Homo sapiens: one gene and its partner. The protein of the gene in region 1 interacts with the protein of each later gene in a biochemical or structural test. Each region holds a gene or a part of one and is shown in the gene's direction. Other genes may lie near its edges.

The links. The genes of interacting proteins can lie anywhere in the genome.
Region 2: the proteins of DNAJB11 (region 1) and APOBEC1 form a complex in vitro, tested with the Homo sapiens proteins (one study listed by BioGRID).

Annotation. Positions count from the first base shown.
Region 1 is NC_000003.12:186,576,425-186,581,560, forward strand, and holds part of DNAJB11 (dnaJ homolog subfamily B member 11 isoform 1 precursor), read left to right. Parts: intron 1-1,243; coding exon 1,244-1,376; intron 1,377-1,560; exon of another isoform or gene 1,561-1,643; intron 1,644-4,946; coding exon 4,947-5,089; intron 5,090-5,136. UniProt on the Homo sapiens protein: As a co-chaperone for HSPA5 it is required for proper folding, trafficking or degradation of proteins.
Region 2 is NC_000012.12:7,655,909-7,659,408, reverse strand, and holds part of APOBEC1 (C->U-editing enzyme APOBEC-1), read left to right. Parts: intron 1-3,500. UniProt on the Homo sapiens protein: Cytidine deaminase catalyzing the cytidine to uridine postranscriptional editing of a variety of mRNAs. Form complexes with cofactors that confer differential editing activity and selectivity.

The DNA of each region.
Region 1 (5,136 bases):
AATAATAAACACTTTCTTCCTCACTCTTTGAACCTCTCTTTATTGAGCATTTGAATTTCCACATTCCCTGATGATTACATATACTAAGAGACTTTAATCTGGGGTTTCAGGTCTGAAATTATAAACAAAAAGATGTTCGAATCTGCATTTTTATGGGGAGAGTTCATTGTTTTCTTCAGATTCTCAAAGGGTTCTGTGAACCCTTCCCCAAAAGAAGTAAGAATCACTGTTGCATATAGTAGTTACCACCATTTAGTGCTTGGTTGAGGGGCCTGGGGTGGGGGAGTAGATTTTTAGGGTCTGTAAAGATGTGTGAGTAACATGATTAGGACATCTTTTCCCCCCGCCAGGATCAATTTGGCTGGCTGAAGTGATCCCTAGGGAATACCAGAAAGAGAAACAGCTTCCCCAGCCCCCACCCTGTTCTTTCCCCTTGCCTTTATTTAAGATTCAGGGAATTCATTCACCTGAGTTGGTTGGTGGGAGAGGGAGTTATATAGTTATCATCTTCGCTATGCTAATATACAAGGCTTCTTAATAACACCAAAAATTAACATTAGATTAAACCACCTGTAGGATTGAAGGTCACCTTTTTTGTTAATCTCAAGTTACTCTTGTTACTTACAAAAATTAGTTTGGGTCTTATAGAGGCTAGAACTTCCTTCTCCTTAAGCACTAGGATTTTACTAAGGCTGATGCTTTTTTAGCTTATTTAATTACATACTCAAGATTTTTGTGTAGAGCAGTAGCTTCTTTCAACAAGTTAGCTTCTAAAAAGCATGTAAAGAGAACACTACATATGTTAAAATTACCGATAAAAATTTCTTAAATTAACCATTACATTTAGCATTACACAAGTTTATGTATACTATACTCTTTCTCAATAAGTCCACCATATTCAGATTTTTCCCAATATTGAAAGATTATTATTTCATTGGTTGGGTCCAACATTGAATTCATTGGCATACTGTGTGTGTATGTACTGTACTATATGTATGGGCTATATTTTGTTAAAAAGTGGATTTTTTTGTAGTAAGGGACCGTATAGTTACAACATGGTTGATAGTATATAAATTTAAAATTATGTATGATAGTTGACTCCATTGTATTAAAAAATACCTTGTAGTTTTGCACAATGCATTGATAGAAACAATAGTTTATCAACGTAAAGAAAATGAGTTAATTGTGAAACATAGAGTCTTGATTTTTTTTTTTTTCCTGATGATTTTGCACTTATCTTTAGCTTCTTTGGGGATTTTGGTTTCATGTTTGGAGGAACCCCTCGTCAGCAAGACAGAAATATTCCAAGAGGAAGTGATATTATTGTAGATCTAGAAGTCACTTTGGAAGAAGTATATGCAGGAAATTTTGTGGAAGTAAGTTCAAACAATATAGCTGTTCATATTGACTCCCAGAACTTGCACTTTTGACTAAAAATAAGAGGTTTATATGTACCTTCTCTGTCTTTTTGAGGGTAAGAGAGAGTGATCAAATGCACAAAATTGAATTAATTATAATGCTTGGTTCATGATACACTGATGTCATTGTTTTATCACCCAGCTTAAGAACTAAGTAAAACATTACCATGACTTAATCTACCTACATGCTACTTCCCTGTTCCATTACCCTGCCTCCCTTCAAAGGTAACTACTGTATTGAGTTATGTCTTTATTGTTCTTTTGCCATTCTTACTTTATCATGTATATATGAATACCTGAATAATATATTGTTTATTATATTGTTTTTGATTTTTTAGAAATGGTATTTTATTCATTATTTTCTGGGACTGGTTATTTTCACTCACTATTATGTTACTAGGATTCACCCTTGTTGCTTATTGCTATATTGTGACCATAATTTATTAATAGGCATTTTTGTTTCTTCCAGTTTTATTCAATTCCAAACAGCGCTTTTATGAACATTTTAATCCATATTTCCAGGTTCAGATGAACAAGAATATCTCTTGGGTGGATATGCTTGAGAGTAGAATTGCTGGGTAATATGAACCAATGTTCATTTTTACAAGTTAATACTGTATTGCTTTTGAAATTGATTGTACTGATGCTTCTACATGCAATTTATGAGATCCTATAGATTCACTGCCTCACTAATACTTGGAATTATTAGACTTCTTAATTTTTGCTCATCAAATGGGTATAAAATATCTCATTATGGTCTTGTTTTACATTTTTTAAATTACCAATTAGGATCAGCATCTCTTCCTGTGTTTATTGGCCATATTTGTTTCCTCTCTTGTGAAATGCCTGTTCTTTCTTTTGCCTCTTGCTTATTGATTTCTAAGAGTACTTCACTCTTGCTGCTAATTCTTTGTTGGCTGTATGTAATGCAGATATAGGCTATCTGTTTGTAACTTGTCTTTTCATTATGTTTAAGATTTATTTCAATTTTCAGCAAACAGAACTAATTAATGTAATTAAATCTATCAGTCTTTAATGGTTAGTTTTTGTGTCTTTTTAAAGAAATTCGTTTTTGTTCTAAAATAAGAAAGCAGCCATGTGCAGTGGAGCACACTTGTAATCTCAGCTACTCAGGAGGCTGAGGTAGGAGGATTGCTTGAGGCCAGGAGTTTGAGGCTATCATGTCCTGTGATTGCATCTGTGAATAGCCACTGCACTCTAGCCTGGACAACATAACTGAAACTCATCTCTGGAAAAAAATTTTAAAATAAAATAAGAAAGCTGTTCACCTATATTTTCTGCTAAAACTCTGGGATCTTTTAATATGAGGTTATTCATCTTTTTTAAATTCTGGAAAATATGTCTCATTATTTTTTACAATTCTATCACTCCTACTTCTGTCTGCTCTTAACTTTCTTTTAAATACAAAAAATAAATTTTCTTTATCCTTCACTGCTTCCTTCTGGGAGGTACCTCATTTTGATCTCCCAGCTTACTACTTCAGTCTTCAGCTATATCCATTCTAATAATAACCCATCTGCTGTGTTTTAATTTCAACTCATATTTTTATGCATAATATTTCTACTTGATTCTTGCATTATTTCTTACTCTATATCATTTTACTAATGCCTTCCCTCCTTAAGTATTATCATGCTTGTTTTAAGTTCCTGGTCTGTCTAATCTTTTTTTAAGCAAAGTACAGTTGCTTAAAATATATGTGTTATTCAGTTTGTTGTCTTTTGTGGGGCAGATGATAGACCTTCTCAGGTATCTAGCTGTCTTGGCCTTTGAGCTGATATTCCCTTACAGGTACCAGCAACTACCTTTCCCTGCAGAGCATCATGGGCTGAGCCCTGGCCCACTGGTTTTAACTGTGTTTTGTTTGGTGTCTTGGGGTGTTTTTTGTTTTGTTTGCTGTCTGGAGTCTTTTGTTTTCTGCAGTCATGGGAAACAGTTCAAAACAGCCCTCTATCTGTGGGATTTTCTCATATATTCTGTGCTGTAGTTACTGTTTCCTGGAATCCATGTTTTCTTGTAGTTTTTCCAGGATACTGGAGGAGACAGCCGGTAGCCTGTGCATATGTGCCATCTTGACAAGAAGCGTATTCTTCTTAGTTGTAGCTGCTTCTCTGAATAATTGAAAGAAGAGATATAGACAATCACAGAAGATGCAACTGACTTGTAATACTGTTGAGGCTGCAGGAGAAAAGGGCATTAAAAATATTCATAAACCAGTGAGGTTGTTTAGATGGGAGGAAAGAGGTGAGCCTAATTAGCGCCCATGTTCCCTTCCAAGCCTGTTCTGCAGTTGTCACTAATACACAGTAGACATCACTTTTTGCTGTTAGTGTGTTCCCGAACAAACTCTTTTTTAATCCAACTATTGTAAAGGCTGTAAATGGCTTTGCTGGTTCAGTAACCCCATGCTAAATTCTTTTTTTCCTTGTTTTCAATCCTGCTCCTTCTGTATGTAAATTATTTTTTAAAGAAAAAAAAATACCTTGAGAAATAGGATAGCACAATGGTTAAGGAGCATGGACTTTGCAGCTAGACTGCCTAGTTTAGAATCCTGGCTCTGCCATGTATTAGTCATGTGGCCTTGGTCATGTTACTTAACCTTTCTATACTTCTGTTACCTCACCTGTAAAATGGGGATAATAACAGTACCTGTCTCATAGAGTTGTGAGGGTTAAATGAATATGTAAAAGTGTTTGGCACATGGCTTGGCATGTAGTAAGTGCTATAAAATGTTTGCTCTGATTACTGTTATTGTTGCTATAATTTACTCTGTTGACCTGGGCCTTTCATATGTTGGTAGGCTTTAAAGGATTTTTCTCCAAGCATTCGTCATTCTGCTGCGTGAGCACATACCTTGTGATTAGATGTTTGACTATTTAAACAGGCAAAACTAGGAATACATTTCTGCATATATATCAATTTTACATTCTTAGAGGGATCAGAATGTTTGATTGCAGTCAACTACAAAGAGATGGTCATTGTTTCTCTTCCTACATGTTAAAGTATCTGAATGGAGATAGCTCCAGAAAATAGTCCTGGATTGCATTTCCTGAAATAAGGAGACATTTTCAGTAGGTTAACCAGAGGATTGGATAGTAGCCACATACCAGGTTTTGAAGGTAGTGATTGTTCCTCAGGGGTTATGCTTTACACAGCTCGGATTTCCTAAAAGATAATCATTACATGAAGTACTTTAACTCAGTAGCATTTAGTTGTGGCTTAGAAATGCTGATATCATACACTTTATTTTTCGGTTCTCTTGTTTCTTACTCCCGTCTCTACTTCTCCAGCTTTAGAATTTGAGTCATTTAAGTATGTGTTTGCTTCATTCCTGTTTGGGGGCTGATTTGTACTCTTCAAAGAGTTTTGTCAGCTTTAGATCTCTGAGGGATAGATTGCCAGAGAAGGGGAAGTTTCAGTCCAGGCATATGTGCAGAGCCTTGATCAATTGAGGAAAGGAAAGGCTGTTTTACACAAGAGAGAAGCTGATGTTGTTTATGCACTTCCTAGGTAGTTAGAAACAAACCTGTGGCAAGGCAGGCTCCTGGCAAACGGAAGTGCAATTGTCGGCAAGAGATGCGGACCACCCAGCTGGGCCCTGGGCGCTTCCAAATGACCCAGGAGGTGGTCTGCGACGAATGCCCTAATGTCAAGTAAGTGAAAGCACCTTCTTTGTTCTACCAAGAAACACTTGTTAATT
Region 2 (3,500 bases), on another chromosome or scaffold:
CGGTAGTTCCTTTTGTGTGTGTGTGTGTGTGTGTGATTTTTAAATTTCAAATATAAACATATATATATATATATATATATATATATTTTTTTTTTTTTTTTTTTTTTTTTTTTTGAGAGGGAGTTTCACTCTTGTTGCCCAGGCTGGAGTGCAATGGCGCGATCTCGGCTCACTACAACCTCCACCTCCTGGGTTCAAGCAATTCTCCTGCCTCAGCTTCCTGAGTAGCTGGGATTACAGGCATGCGCCACCACACCCAGCTAATTTTGTATTTTTAGTAGAGACAGGGTTTCTCCATGTTGGTCAGGCTGGTCTCGAACACCTGACCTCAGGTGATCTGCCTGCCTCAGCCTCCCAAAGTGCTGGGATTACAGGCATGAGCCACCGCGCCCGGCCTATAAATATATTTTTAAATTTTCTTTTTTTGGTGGAAGTGCTTTTTTTTTTTTTCTTTTGACATGGAGTTTTGCTCTCGTTGCCCAGGCTGGAGTGCAACGGCATGATCTGGGCTCACCGCAACCTCTGCCTCACAGATTCAAGTGATTCTTGTGCCTCGGCCTCCCAAGTAGCTGGGATTACAGGCATGTGCCACCACACCCGGCTAATTTTTGTATTTTTAGTAGAGACGGGGTTTCGCCATGTTGGTCAGGCTGGTCTCAAACTCCTGACCTAAGGTGATCCACCTGCCTCAGCCTCCCAAAGTCAGCCACCGCGCCTGGCCTAAATTTTCAATCAATATGTGCCAAGTGATTATTATTTAAAAATATTAGCTTGAGAAGAGTTCTCAGACTCAATTTTATTGTCATGAGCCTCTTACAGTGAGGTCTCACAGACTTCCTTTTTCCTTCATGCCACTGACTCTGAGACCATCTGGCACTGTGACACCTCTGTTGGGTAATCAAGCCATAAATCAAAATCTTTAGTCTCCAATTCCTGTATCGCCTTTCTCAAAACGCAGCCTGAGTCTGAAAAATAATGTACCTGTAACCAAGGACTCCAACACCTATTTAATCATCTATCAAACCTGAAATAAAAACCCAATTTTGGCCGGGCACGGTGGCTCACGCCTGTAATCCCAGCACTTTGAGATGCTGAGAGGGGCAGATCACATGAGGCCAGGAGTTTGAGACCAGCCTGGCCAAGATGGTGAAACCCCGTCTCTACTAAAAATACAAAAGTTAGCCGGGTGTGGTGACACATGCCTGTAATCCCAGCTACTTGGGAGGCTCAGGCACGAGAATCACTTGAACCCTGGAGGCAAAGTTTACAGTGAGCCAAGATTGCACCACTGGACTCCAGCCTGGGTGGTGGAGTGAGGTTCTGTCTCAAAACAAAACAAAACAAAACAAAACAAAACAAAACAGAACAAATCAATTTCCAGGTGATTCTATTTCGGAAATTGGAAGAAATTAGGGACTTTTGATCAGTCCATGCATTTTTGTCATAGACTTCAATTCTTTTCCAGGAAATAGTTTTGGGTATTTTTTTTGTTATTTATTTATAATTTTAGTTTAATTATTATTATCTTTTTTTGAGACAGGGTCTGTCTCTCTTGCCCCTGCTGGAGTGCAGTGGCATGCTCATGGCTCACTGCAGCCTCAACCTCCTGGGCTCAAGTGATTATCCCACCTCAGCTTTCCTAGTAGCTGGGACTACAGGCATGCACCACTACAGCTGGTTAAACTTCTGTATCTTTTTGTAGAGACGGAAATTTCCCCATTTTACCCAGGCTGGCCTTGATATCTTAGGCTTAAGCGACCATCTTGCCTTGGCCTCCCAAAGTGCTGGGATTACAGGTGTGAGTCACTGCCTACAGCCTGGTTTGTTTTTTAATTTTGTTTTGTTGTTATTGATTGTTTTTATTTTAAGGAATTTAGTAGCTCTAGATGCAGGCTTATCTTCAGTTTTCCACAGCCCTTGCTCACTTTCTTTTCATGGGAATGGCCTGGGCCTACCGTAGAAAGCATACTTCACAGTATATGGCTAGCCCTCTATATGAAAAATAAAACGTCAGAAAGTGTGCAATCCACCTCTCTCCAGCCTTAAAGGTGCAAAAAGCCTCAGAGTCACTTCAAAAGTGTTCTGACTTTGGAGACATATTCCAAGGACTGGCTCAACTTAGGTTCTATGTTATGCAACTAGACATTCAGCTAACAATTTGGCAGTCATGGCGAGGAAACATACACATGAGGCTCAATTCAAGGGTAGTAACTTAGTACGAAATGCAGTTGGTTCAAATGATTCTGGCTGGGATGCCAAATATGTAATTGAGATGTTTATGTTACCAGTATTATTAGTTCCCTTTTTCCTCTGTTAAATAGCTATTTACACACACACACACACACACACACACACACACACACACGTATATACAACACACTAGGACACCAAGTGGGTATTTTTGCAACCCAAACTAAAAATCCATAAGCATATGCATGGCAAACCGAATAGTAGAGATAAGAAAGAGAAGTATTCTTACACAGGAGGCTCTCACCTCCTCAAAATTCCCAAGTTGACATTTAATGTCAATGATGTTCATGCCATTGAAATAAACATAAAACAGGCATCTTTCTAACCCTCTGAAAGGCTGCCGTAATAACAGTGCTTAACGTTTATGAAGCATCTGCTGCGTCAGGCACCTTGCAAATGTTTTCCATTCATTGTGTTACGTGAGTCTTCCGACAACCTTGTGGAATAGGCAATCTTAGGGTCTACATTTGACAAATGGGGAAACTGAGGTCTAGAGAGGTTAGGAAACTTGCCAAATGTGTTAGAGCAAGTAATTGGCTAAACTGGGATTATAACCCATTTTTCTCTGACCCTAGAGCCTTGGCTCTTGATTGCAACACTGTGTTGCTTCTTTAGACTAGACTGAGATTCATGGACCATTTTAAGTTTGTAACCACCTTTGAGAGTCTGAATGGAGGACGTGGTTTTGCCTGGTTTTACTTCCTCCTCTAGAGTGCGGGGTCCATATTCCTCTGATGATAAGGGCCAGGAGAGCCATCTAAACAAAGTACTGCTTAGATCACTCCAAAGCCGGGGCCACTCACACTGCACCCCAGGAAACTGAACCTCTGTCCTTTCCAGCCCAGACTTTCTTCCACGGAGTGACACTGATTAGTTTGTAGGCCAGGTGAGGCATGATTTCATAACCATGGAGTAATCTGACCAGGGTCATGCAGGGGAGCAGCAGGCCTGCGGTATATAAATTCTCAAATACACATCTTCCATTTATTTCCTTATTTCTTTCTTTAAAAAAAAAAAATTTGGCCTAGGCATGGTGAATCATGCCTGTAATCCCAGCACTTTGGGAGGCTGAAGCAGGAGGATCTCTTGAGCTCAGGAGTTTGAGACCAACCTGGGCAACACAGAGAGAACACGCCTCCACAAAAAAAATAACAAATGAAATAAAATTTTAATTTTTTAAGAGACAGGGTCTCACTGTATCACCCAGGCTATGTACAGTGACATAATCATAGCTCACAGTAACCTGGAAC